Homo sapiens: one gene and its partners. The protein of the gene in region 1 purifies or fractionates together with the protein of each later gene. This does not show direct contact. Each region holds a gene or a part of one and is shown on either strand. Other genes may lie near its edges.

Region 1 (2,528 bases):
TCTGACTAGTATAAGATGGTATCTCGTTGTGGCTTTAGTTTGCATTTCTCTAATGATCAGTGATGTTGAGCTTTTTTTTCATATATTTCTTGGGCACATGTATTGTCTTCTTTCCAGAATTGTCTGTTTGTGTCTTTGCCCACTTCTTAATGGGGCTGTTTGTTTTTTCTTGTAAATTTGTTTAAGTTCCTTATCAAGGAACTACATGATTCTTATCAAAAAGGATTTTGGACAGATTTTATGGGCAGAGTCTTTAACTATTTGGGAGCTAAAGGTGTAAGAGAAGATAAAATGAAAAGAGCAGTGACATCGATGCCTTTCACTTCAGGGATGGTGGAACTTTTCAACTTTATAATAGTTGCTGGATATTAGACCTTTGTCAGATGGATAAATTGCAAAAATTTTCTCCCATTCTCTAAGTTGTCTGTTTACTCTGTTGATAGTTTCTTTTGCTGTGCAGAAGCTCTTTAGTTTAATTAGATACCATTTGTCAATTTTTGCTGTTGTTGCATTTGCTTTTGGCATCTTTGTCATGAAACCTTTGCCTTTGCTGTGTCCTGAATTGTATTGCCTAGATTTTCTTCTAGGTTTTTTATAGTGTTGGGTTTTACACTTAAGTCTTTAATCCACCTTGAGTTGATTTTTGTATATGGTGTTAAGGAAGGGGTCCAGTTTGTTTTCTGCATATGGCTAGCCAGTTATCCCAGCACCATTTATTAAATAGGGAATCCTTTCCCCATTGCTTGTTTTTGTTACTAAATACCTTTTCTTAAAAAGTTATTTTACATCTTCCAAGATTTCATGTTATGTTAAATTTGTTCAGAATTTTGGTTAGTACACAGAGAGTCCTTTATACATGATCTGTTATTTAATATGAGGATTGTAAATATTTTAATCTAATAAAATAAGTGTGGTTTGATTGATAATTTAATGATAGTAAGAAATGCTTTTTTTTCTTTCTTATAAATTCTATAAGAAACACACCTCCAGGAACACAATAATACTATGAATGTCCTTTTTATATATTTTGTTTTCCACTTAAAATACTCAAATACGAACTTTGCTTCTTAGAGAAAAGTGGTTAGGTAGTGGTCTTGAAGTGCTTAATTACTTTGTTTATATTCCTCCCTTTAGCAGATTAACATTTAGTTATGTTTATTAAATAAGTATTTTAGCTAGATATGTAAACAGAGTTTGTTTAGGGAATAATATTTCTTCTTTTTCAGGGTAATCCAAATCTATTTCTGGAACCATGAAAATTTTGCTAGTTTTTGACTTTGACAATACAATCATAGATGACAATAGTGACACTTGGATTGTACAATGTGCTCCCAACAAAAAGCTTCCTATTGAACTACGTGATTCTTATCGAAAAGGATTTTGGACAGAATTTATGGGCAGAGTCTTTAAGTATTTGGGAGATAAGGGTGTAAGAGAACATGAAATGAAAAGAGCAGTGACATCATTGCCTTTCACTCCAGGGATGGTGGAACTCTTCAACTTTATAAGAAAGAATAAGGATAAATTTGACTGCATTATTATTTCAGATTCAAATTCGGTCTTCATAGATTGGGTTTTAGAAGCTGCCAGTTTTCATGACATATTTGATAAAGTGTTTACAAATCCAGCAGCTTTTAATAGCAATGGTCATCTCACTGTTGAAAATTATCATACTCATTCTTGCAATAGATGCCCAAAGAATCTTTGCAAAAAGGTAGTTTTGATAGAATTTGTAGATAAACAGTTACAACAGGGAGTGAATTATACACAAATTGTTTATATTGGTGATGGTGGAAATGATGTCTGTCCAGTCACCTTTTTAAAGAATGATGATGTTGCCATGCCACGGAAAGGATATACCTTACAGAAAACTCTTTCCAGAATGTCTCAAAATCTTGAGCCTATGGAATATTCTGTTGTAGTTTGGTCCTCAGGTGTTGATATAATTTCTCATTTACAATTTCTAATAAAGGATTAATATGTCAGCAATTGAAAAGTGTATCACTTAAGATTAGGTTCAGCAGCATAAAACTAAAACCCCAAATACCAGAGGCTTAAAAAAAAAAAAGAGAGAGAATTTTTTTTTCCTCTCACATGAAAGAATTCCAGAGGTAAGTATTTCAGGGTTGCTGTGTTAGTCTACCAACCTCAGCACTTGGCATTCAACCCATGATCCAAGGTTGCTGGTGAAGCTCTAGCCCTCACAGCAGCACTCTGGCCAGCAAGAAAGAGGGCAGTGAGAAAGTTACATCCCCTGTCTAAAGAAATTTCCCAGAAGTTGTACCCAACACTTCTATTTAAATGTCACTGGCCAAACTTAGTCATAATGCCTTACTTGTAAATAGCAAGGAAGGATGGAAAATATAGCTTTCATTCCAGGTAGTCATGTGCCCAGGAAAAGTTGGGGAAAAAAGTACAGAATTGAGTTAGGTACAGCTAGTGGTCTCCACTAAAGGTGGTTGATAGTTTATATTTTTTAATTTATTCCTGGAGCAAGTAAGCATATTTTATTCTCTTAGATATTCCTC
Region 2 (3,658 bases), on another chromosome or scaffold:
GTTAGTACGGTGAGACAAGGATAAGAATGTTCAGAACGGCTCAAATGGAAACAACTCAAGTGTGCATCAATATGAGCTTAGGTGATAGACACAATCATAAAATATAATATTATAAGCCGTCACACCTATAATCCCAGCACTTTGGGAGGTCAAGGTGGGTGGATCAAGACCAGACTGGCCAACATGGTGAAACCCCATCGCTACTAAAAATGCAAAAATGAGCCTTGCGTGGTGGTACATGCCTGTAATCCCAGCTACTCAGGAAGCTGAGGCAGGAGAGTTGCTTGAACCCGGGAGGTGGAGGTTGCAATGAGCCGAGATCGCACCACTGCACTCCAACCTGGGCAATGGAGTCAGACCCTGTCTCAAAAAATATATATATTATAAGCAGGAAAAATGAATACAACTGCAACTTTATACAACATGAATGAATCATAATACAATGTTGAGTCTACAAAGCAAGTCCAAGAAGTGTGCGTGGAACATGATACCCTCTGTAGATTCATAAACAATTAAAACTAAATAGTGGCATAAGCCTACATATATGTGACAACACTAGGAAGACAAGATTCACAACAGTGGTTACTGGGAATGGATCAGGGAGCAACACAGGTGGATACAAGTTATCACCAATGTGTTAGGTCTTAGGTTGGATGGTGGGTTTGCAGTTATTTATCATATTATGAACCAAAGTGAAAAAGTAAAAGTAAATGATGCTTGTTCCAGTCATGACAGCTTGGTCATGAACTAAGCATTTTGGACAATTCGTTCGGGGCAACACTAGATCAATTTTATAAAAGAGGAGAGGAGACACGCTGGACAGAAACAGCAGGAGAGAAAACTGCAGGGGCTAAAGAAGCCCCAGCCCCTGTCCTTCAAGAATTCCACAGATATTGGCCGCACGCGGTGGCTCACACCTGTAATCCCAGCACTTTGGGAGGCTGAGGCAGGCAGATCACCTGAGGTCAGGAGTTCGAGACCACCCTGGCCAACATGGTGAAACCCCGTCTCTACTAAAAATACAAAAATTAGCCAGGTGGTGCATGCCTGTAATCCCAGCTACTTGGGAGGCTGAGGCAGGAGAATTGCTTGAGCCTGGGAGGCAGAGGTTGCAGTGAGCCGAGGTTGCGCCAGTGCACTCCAGCCTGGGTGACAGAGCAGGACTCCGTCTCCAAAAAAATAAAAATAAAAAAGAATTCTACAGATATGATGAGTGGGTGGAGACAGGTAAAGGCAGTGGTGATGTGTGATGGGGACGGGGATGCATGTAGGGCTGTAAACACAGAAGAGAAGGGGCAGATATCAACAGGAGGGGAAATGACTAGAGTAGCAGATACTGAGATTAGAGCTGGAAGGATTAGATGAGGTAGTCTGGTGGAAACAGGGAAGGAAAGGTGGAAGAAACTATACTTGCAAGGGCTCAAAGTTGTAGGACAGCAGGTCCGTATGGAGACAGAAGGCCAGCGTGGCCAGGCCACGGGGCAGGATCAGAGGACAGAAACAGGCTGAAGTGGCCACCTGGTGTGGGGCAAGGAACATGGGCCTGATTCTCTAAGCAACAGGAACAAACAACAACAACATTGAAACTCCAGGCTGCCTGGGAAGTAATAGTTTTGGGGCGATGATTCTGGCAGCCTGAAGTTTGGAATGAGAGATGGAGGCAGGGAGGAAGTGAGGCAGGCTCTGTGGTCAGTAGAGGTGGGGAGGGAAGATGAGCAAAGGACAAGTTAGTTTTACTTTTAGAAAGAAGGTTGGTGGCCGGGCGCGGTGGCTTACGCCTGTAATCCCAGCACTTTGGGAGGCCGAGGCGGGCGGATCACCTGAGGTCAGGAGTTCAAGAACTGCCTGCCTAACATGGCAAAATCCCGTCTCTACTAAAAATACAAAAATTAGCCGGGCATGGTGGTGTGCGCCTGTAATCCCAGCTACTTGGGAGGCTGAGGCAGGAGAATCGCTTGAACCTGGGAGGTGGAGTTTGCAGTGAGCCAAGATCGCACCATTGCACTCCAGCCTGGGTAACAAGAGTGAAACTCCATCTCAAAAACAAACAAACAAACAAACAAAACAAAGAAGGTTGAATGGGACATAATGATTTCCTGGCTCTGGGATATGAAGGGGGAGAACAGGAGAGAAGAGAACTCCCAGGTGATGAGGGAGGAGTGGGTTTGGTGGAATGCTGAAGAGCTCAGCCTGGACTTTCCGAGTGGACATGCACATGAGAAGATCCCCAAACCACTCACCGAGGTGATGGTACCCATAATGGGGTCTTCATCATCCATTTTCTCTGGTCTCCCAGCTGCTTGCTTCCTGCGGGCTTTCACTCTAAGGAAAGAAACCAGCACAGTGCAGCTGGGACCACCCAGGCACGGGTTAGCGGGTTGTCCCATCCCATGCTAAGATGGTGAAAATGACAATGAAGCCATCCAGGCCCCGGAACTAAACTCGGAGACCTTCCTGACTTCGGAGTGAGGGCTCCATCCTCCTGGATAACCAGGGATTTGGTCAGGGTGGCCATGGACTGAATTTCCATCATATAGACCCCCTCTTACACACAAAACCATGGCAGGAATGGTCATAGCAGTGTTATGCATCATAGCCAAGAAGCAGAGGCAACCCAAGTACCCGTCAACAGCTGAACCCACAAATCAAATGCGTTCCATTTATATAATGGAATATTATTTGAAAACAAAAAGGAATGAAGTATCGATGCATGCTACAACATAGATGAATCTTGAAAACATTAGGCCGAGTGAAAGAAGCCAGCCACAAAGGACCACATATCGCGTGATTCCATTCACACAAAGTACAACTGCAACTTCAGGACAGACAAATCCACAGAGACATGGAATAGGTTAGGGCTGGGGGAAAGAAGCAGGAGTGATAGCTAAGGGGTGCAAGGTTTCTTTATGTCTTCGTTTTTCACTTTAGGCTGATGAAAATGTTCTAAAATTGATTTTGGTGACAGATGCATAACTCTGTCAATATACTTAAAGCCATTGACTCGTACACTTTCAGTGGATGAATTGTACAAAACATGTATCTCAATAAAGCTATTAGAAAAGAAAAAAAGAAAGAAGACCTCTCTGGATCTACTCAGTTCTGCTTTTTGTTTTGTTTTGTTTTTCTTTTAAGACAGGGTCTCTCACTCTGAGGCCCAGGATGGAGTGCATTGGCACAATCCTGGCTCACTGCAGCCTCAACCTCCATGATCAAGTGATCCTCCTGCCTCAGACTCCTGAGCATCTGGAACCACAAGCACACATCACCACCTCTGGCCTTAGCTCTGTGTTTCTGAGATTCAGTCTCTCCTACTCCCTACAAACACCACCCTGTACCTTCCCTGGGACCAAGACTTACATTAAAAAGAAGATGAGGCACAGACAGATACAGAGCAGGGCCATGACACCAGCACCACCAAGGGCTGCAGGAACCACTCCTGTCCCGAGGTTCGATCTCCCTGCAGAAAAGAGGGGCGTGCAATAACTCACTCCCAGGACTCAGACTCTTGTCCTCCCACCTGCTGGGCAACTTGCTCCAGGGCCCTGCTCAGACAGGAGATGAAGAACCCTGTCTCCCCACCACCAGTCCAGCCTCTCTCTCCCACCATCCATCACTCTGGGATCCATGCCCCTCCCCTCAGGCCCCTGCCCTCTGCAAT
Region 3 (3,658 bases), on another chromosome or scaffold:
GTCATGAGAGACCTAGACACCGATTAAAATTTAAAAAACAGGAAGAAAGAAGAATTACAACTTTAATCCAGTAAGAAGGCACTGGGGTTTAGAGTTTGCAAACAAATGCCCATTATATTCATTATGTGTTAAGCAGCAGGAACCATTTCAAGCCTTTACACAATCAATATGAGATGGAGGGTGAATTCTAAGCTCCCTGTGGAGTTGAGGTGACAGGAATATTTTCTAGAATCAGATAAATGCTGTCAGGAGGGGAGAATAAGGCTTATAAAAAAATCCAAGAAAAGATTTCAGAAAGATAACTTTGAATAGCTGCTAGTTAGAACTGGCCACAGACTGGAGGCTTAGATTTGGCTGAGCTCTATTTGGACCCAGTGATTAAAACAAAAATAAAAACAAAAAAACTCAATAACCCAAGCTGTCTGCTGAAGATAGCGATGGTTATAAAAGCTTCAGCTAAGCAGTTGACACTTAAGAATCATTAACATGATATGCAGAACTACAGGGCAGGAGGATTTTCACATACCTACAGGTAAAACAGACTGCACTCTACTTTTGGAAACATAGTAAAGTAATATACTTTGTAATATTTCAACACAAATTCCTCTACCTGGCAGAACCTATGCACAAGGTCAAATAACATATTGTTTACTTTTTTCTTTCCGAAAACCTGATAAAACAAGATAGATGTTCTGGCATCTGGACATTTTTATTGAATCATTTGGTATTTTATGGAGAATTTCATTTCAAAGGATATTTCCAAGCTCTGACTCTTTTGGGTATCCATAAATTAGGTCACTGTGTTAAAAGACACCTGTTTTCTTAGTGGGAGGTGATCGGTGATGCTCTCAGTGCTTATCCTAGTCCCTTGCTCTTAGCACTTCCAGGTAAGCCAGCTGACTTCAGTCATCTTATTTGCTTTGTTTACCTTAAGTTTTTTCTTGGCCTCCAGGGCCTGCCTTGCTTGCCCAAGTGACAGGCTAAAAGTGACCCTTGGGAGTAATCAGTAATTAACAGGAGGTGATGTATACATATCCCAGCTCCCTTATCCCTTGGGGTCCATGTGTGCTGTATATTGTCTCCTAGGGTTCTTCAGCAGAGTTAAGCACCAGTTGCCAACAGCGGTAACTGACTTGATAATATACTCTGTGCTGACTTCCACTTCCCAACCTCTATTGTGGTTTCCCTCACCTTTTAAATAAACTATTTGCATCCAAACCCTTGTCTCAAGATCTGTTTCTGAGAAAGTGCTAACTAAGAAAGAGAGGTGCTTGTGTTTCAGTTTCAATGCATACTTTCAGATTTTGTCCTAAGAAGTAAATTGTGGCAACCTTGTAAACTCTCCTGGGGGCACCTGAGCTGCTCAAATCATCAGTGCTTGTCTGAGGAATGGGAGAAATTAGGGGACCCGAAATGGGGAAATGTGAGAGATGCCTATTGAAACAAGAATAACCAGGGGATTTTGCTGACAGGAAGGATGGAGTTAGGGGATCAAGTGAACAAGAGGACTTCAGAAAACAGCAAGAAAGATTAGTTACTCCAGGAAGGGAACCAAAAAGATGTCATTAGTGAGAAAAAGGTATGGTGCATAGCTCTGTCCTCAGCCCTGTTGGGCCAACCTGAGGCTGGAAGACCACCTGGTGGGGATGTGGTGAAAACTCAAGAATCCCTGGGTAGTTGGGCTGATGGCTATTGAGCTATTCAGCAGCTCTATGAAGAAAGTGGGCATTCACCTGTTTACATTCCCGATTTGAAGGGGCCTATATCTCCTCAGCTCCAGCTTATTCTTGTATCGGTCATCTTTTAATCTTAGTGTTGCCAGGCCTTTCAGGTTTTCAAGAGAAACCAGAAATCTGACATTTTATATATGCAATTGCTGAATTCGTTTTTTAAAAGTGTGTCAAATATAACATATTTGTGGCCTGAATAATGTCTATAGGCCACCAGTTGATAACTCTTGTTCTATATTCTTTCTCTCCACAAGCTGTATTTCTAATAAATGCTTCTAGAATTATGTAGCTATGCCCAGCAGAAAGGCCAGTGTGGAATACAAGGCAAGAAAGAAGGAGAACAGGTCAGGGAGACAAGCGATTCCATCCACTATTCACTCTAGGAGCAACAGGGATATTGATTTCCTCTTTCAAAAAGGATACCTAAGGGGAAAGCCCTTTATATGATGGCTCTAGTGAGGGAGCAAATGTCAGCATCTACCTCCTCACCTGTGGCTCAGACACAGCCAGTAAAAGAGAAATTGAGGATTGGGCAGTGTTGTTTGTACTTAGCTCAGACCTCAGAGGCACTGGTAAGGTGGAGGCTGGGAGAGGTACCCTGCTGTCTCTCCAAGGCCCTGTCCACCTAGTGGGCACGAGTTCTCTGTGGAGAATGTTCTACAGGAGCATCTAGAATATCACAGTAGTGTCTCAGCCTCATTACAGTGCAAATTTATCTACACACAATCTTTGCCTTTTTTCTGTCATGAGAAATCATTATCAAAACCAAATAGGATTCCAACGTCTTCAGAAGAACATTTCAGCTTCCCAATTCTCTAAGTCATAATAGTTCTTTCTTCAAAACTTCTCTGTGTCTCCCATACAAGACTTGGACTCGGAGACTTGGGATAAGAAAGTCTGTAGACTCCATTGTCACGGACTTTCCCAGTTGGCATTGCCAATAGAATTCTATTTCCTAGGGGATATACGAGTGAATAGGTTCTGAGCCCCTGGAGATCAACTTCTTGAGTGTTTTCTCAGACTCTGACCACATTTATAAGAAACTAAACAATGAAACTCTTCATCTGGACCTCTGAGAAGACCCATCCAAAATACCAGGAGATAGGGTTTCATCAAGAGACGGGCCCTGGCGAGTTAATCTCACTGATTCTGAAGACAATTTCTGACTCTGTAGGCCCTACTGACACAGTTAGGTCAGAGTCAGGAGTGTGAGACTGCTGCAAAGAAGAGCCAAGTTATCCTTTGACCACAGTGAAGTGGAAGAAGATCACATCTCCACTCACTCACCGTGTACTCTGGAGGTATCCTGGCGCCAAACCCAAAGGCAGGGAACATTTTGTCACTGAAACCAAAATGAAGAAAAGAAAAAACAAGAAGTTGCTTCATTTATTCATTTAATGAGAAAGAAAAACATTAACCTACATTACTAGGTTGCTAGGCCATGTTGCTATGCCAGTGCTGACTCATGCTTCTTGATTGTCTGTGGTGATGGGGGTAGCAATAGCATGGATAATTAAAATCAAGAAACAGCCCCTTAAGTTCATTACAGTCATTAGTCTACAACTTCCTCCCTTAATTTTTTTGCTAGATTCTATACTAAGAAATAAAATGGCCCTACCCTTTCATCAATGGCCTCCACTTCAACTTTCAACTTTGTTTCCTTTGAAAAGTGACCATGAACTAGGTAACTGTAATGGTTGACTGTGTTAGAACCTTTTGTATGTATCATCTTTTAAAATACAAGGAGAGATAGTTATTCCCCTTCTGCAGGTGGGGAAATGCCTTGAGAGGTAAAGTGACTTGCCCAAGATCATGCCACTAATTAGAGCTAGAGTTCAAATACAGATAAGACTGAATCGAAATGGATATTAAAAAGCAATGGGGCCAGGTGCAGTGGCTCACTCCTGTAATCCCAGAACTTTGGGAGG

What was found.
Region 2: the proteins of PHOSPHO2 (region 1) and SIGLEC5 purify together in Homo sapiens (affinity purification with mass spectrometry; 2 studies listed by BioGRID and IntAct, with this or other methods). This does not show direct contact.
Region 3: the proteins of PHOSPHO2 (region 1) and CPNE4 purify together in Homo sapiens (affinity purification with mass spectrometry; one large-scale study listed by BioGRID and IntAct). This does not show direct contact.

Annotation. Positions count from the first base shown.
Region 1 is NC_000002.12:169,699,720-169,702,247, forward strand, and holds the end of PHOSPHO2 (pyridoxal phosphate phosphatase PHOSPHO2), read left to right. Parts: intron 1-1,226; 5' UTR 1,227-1,252; coding exon 1,253-1,978; 3' UTR 1,979-1,989; downstream 1,990-2,528. UniProt on the Homo sapiens protein: Phosphatase that has high activity toward pyridoxal 5'-phosphate (PLP).
Region 2 is NC_000019.10:51,623,792-51,627,449, forward strand, and holds part of SIGLEC5 (sialic acid-binding Ig-like lectin 5 isoform 1 precursor), read right to left. Parts: intron 3,458-3,658; coding exon 3,358-3,457; intron 2,323-3,357; coding exon 2,241-2,322; intron 1-2,240. UniProt on the Homo sapiens protein: Putative adhesion molecule that mediates sialic-acid dependent binding to cells. Binds equally to alpha-2,3-linked and alpha-2,6-linked sialic acid. The sialic acid recognition site may be masked by cis interactions with sialic acids on the same cell surface.
Region 3 is NC_000003.12:131,552,480-131,556,137, forward strand, and holds part of CPNE4 (copine-4), read right to left. Parts: intron 3,073-3,658; coding exon 3,018-3,072; intron 13-3,017; coding exon 1-12.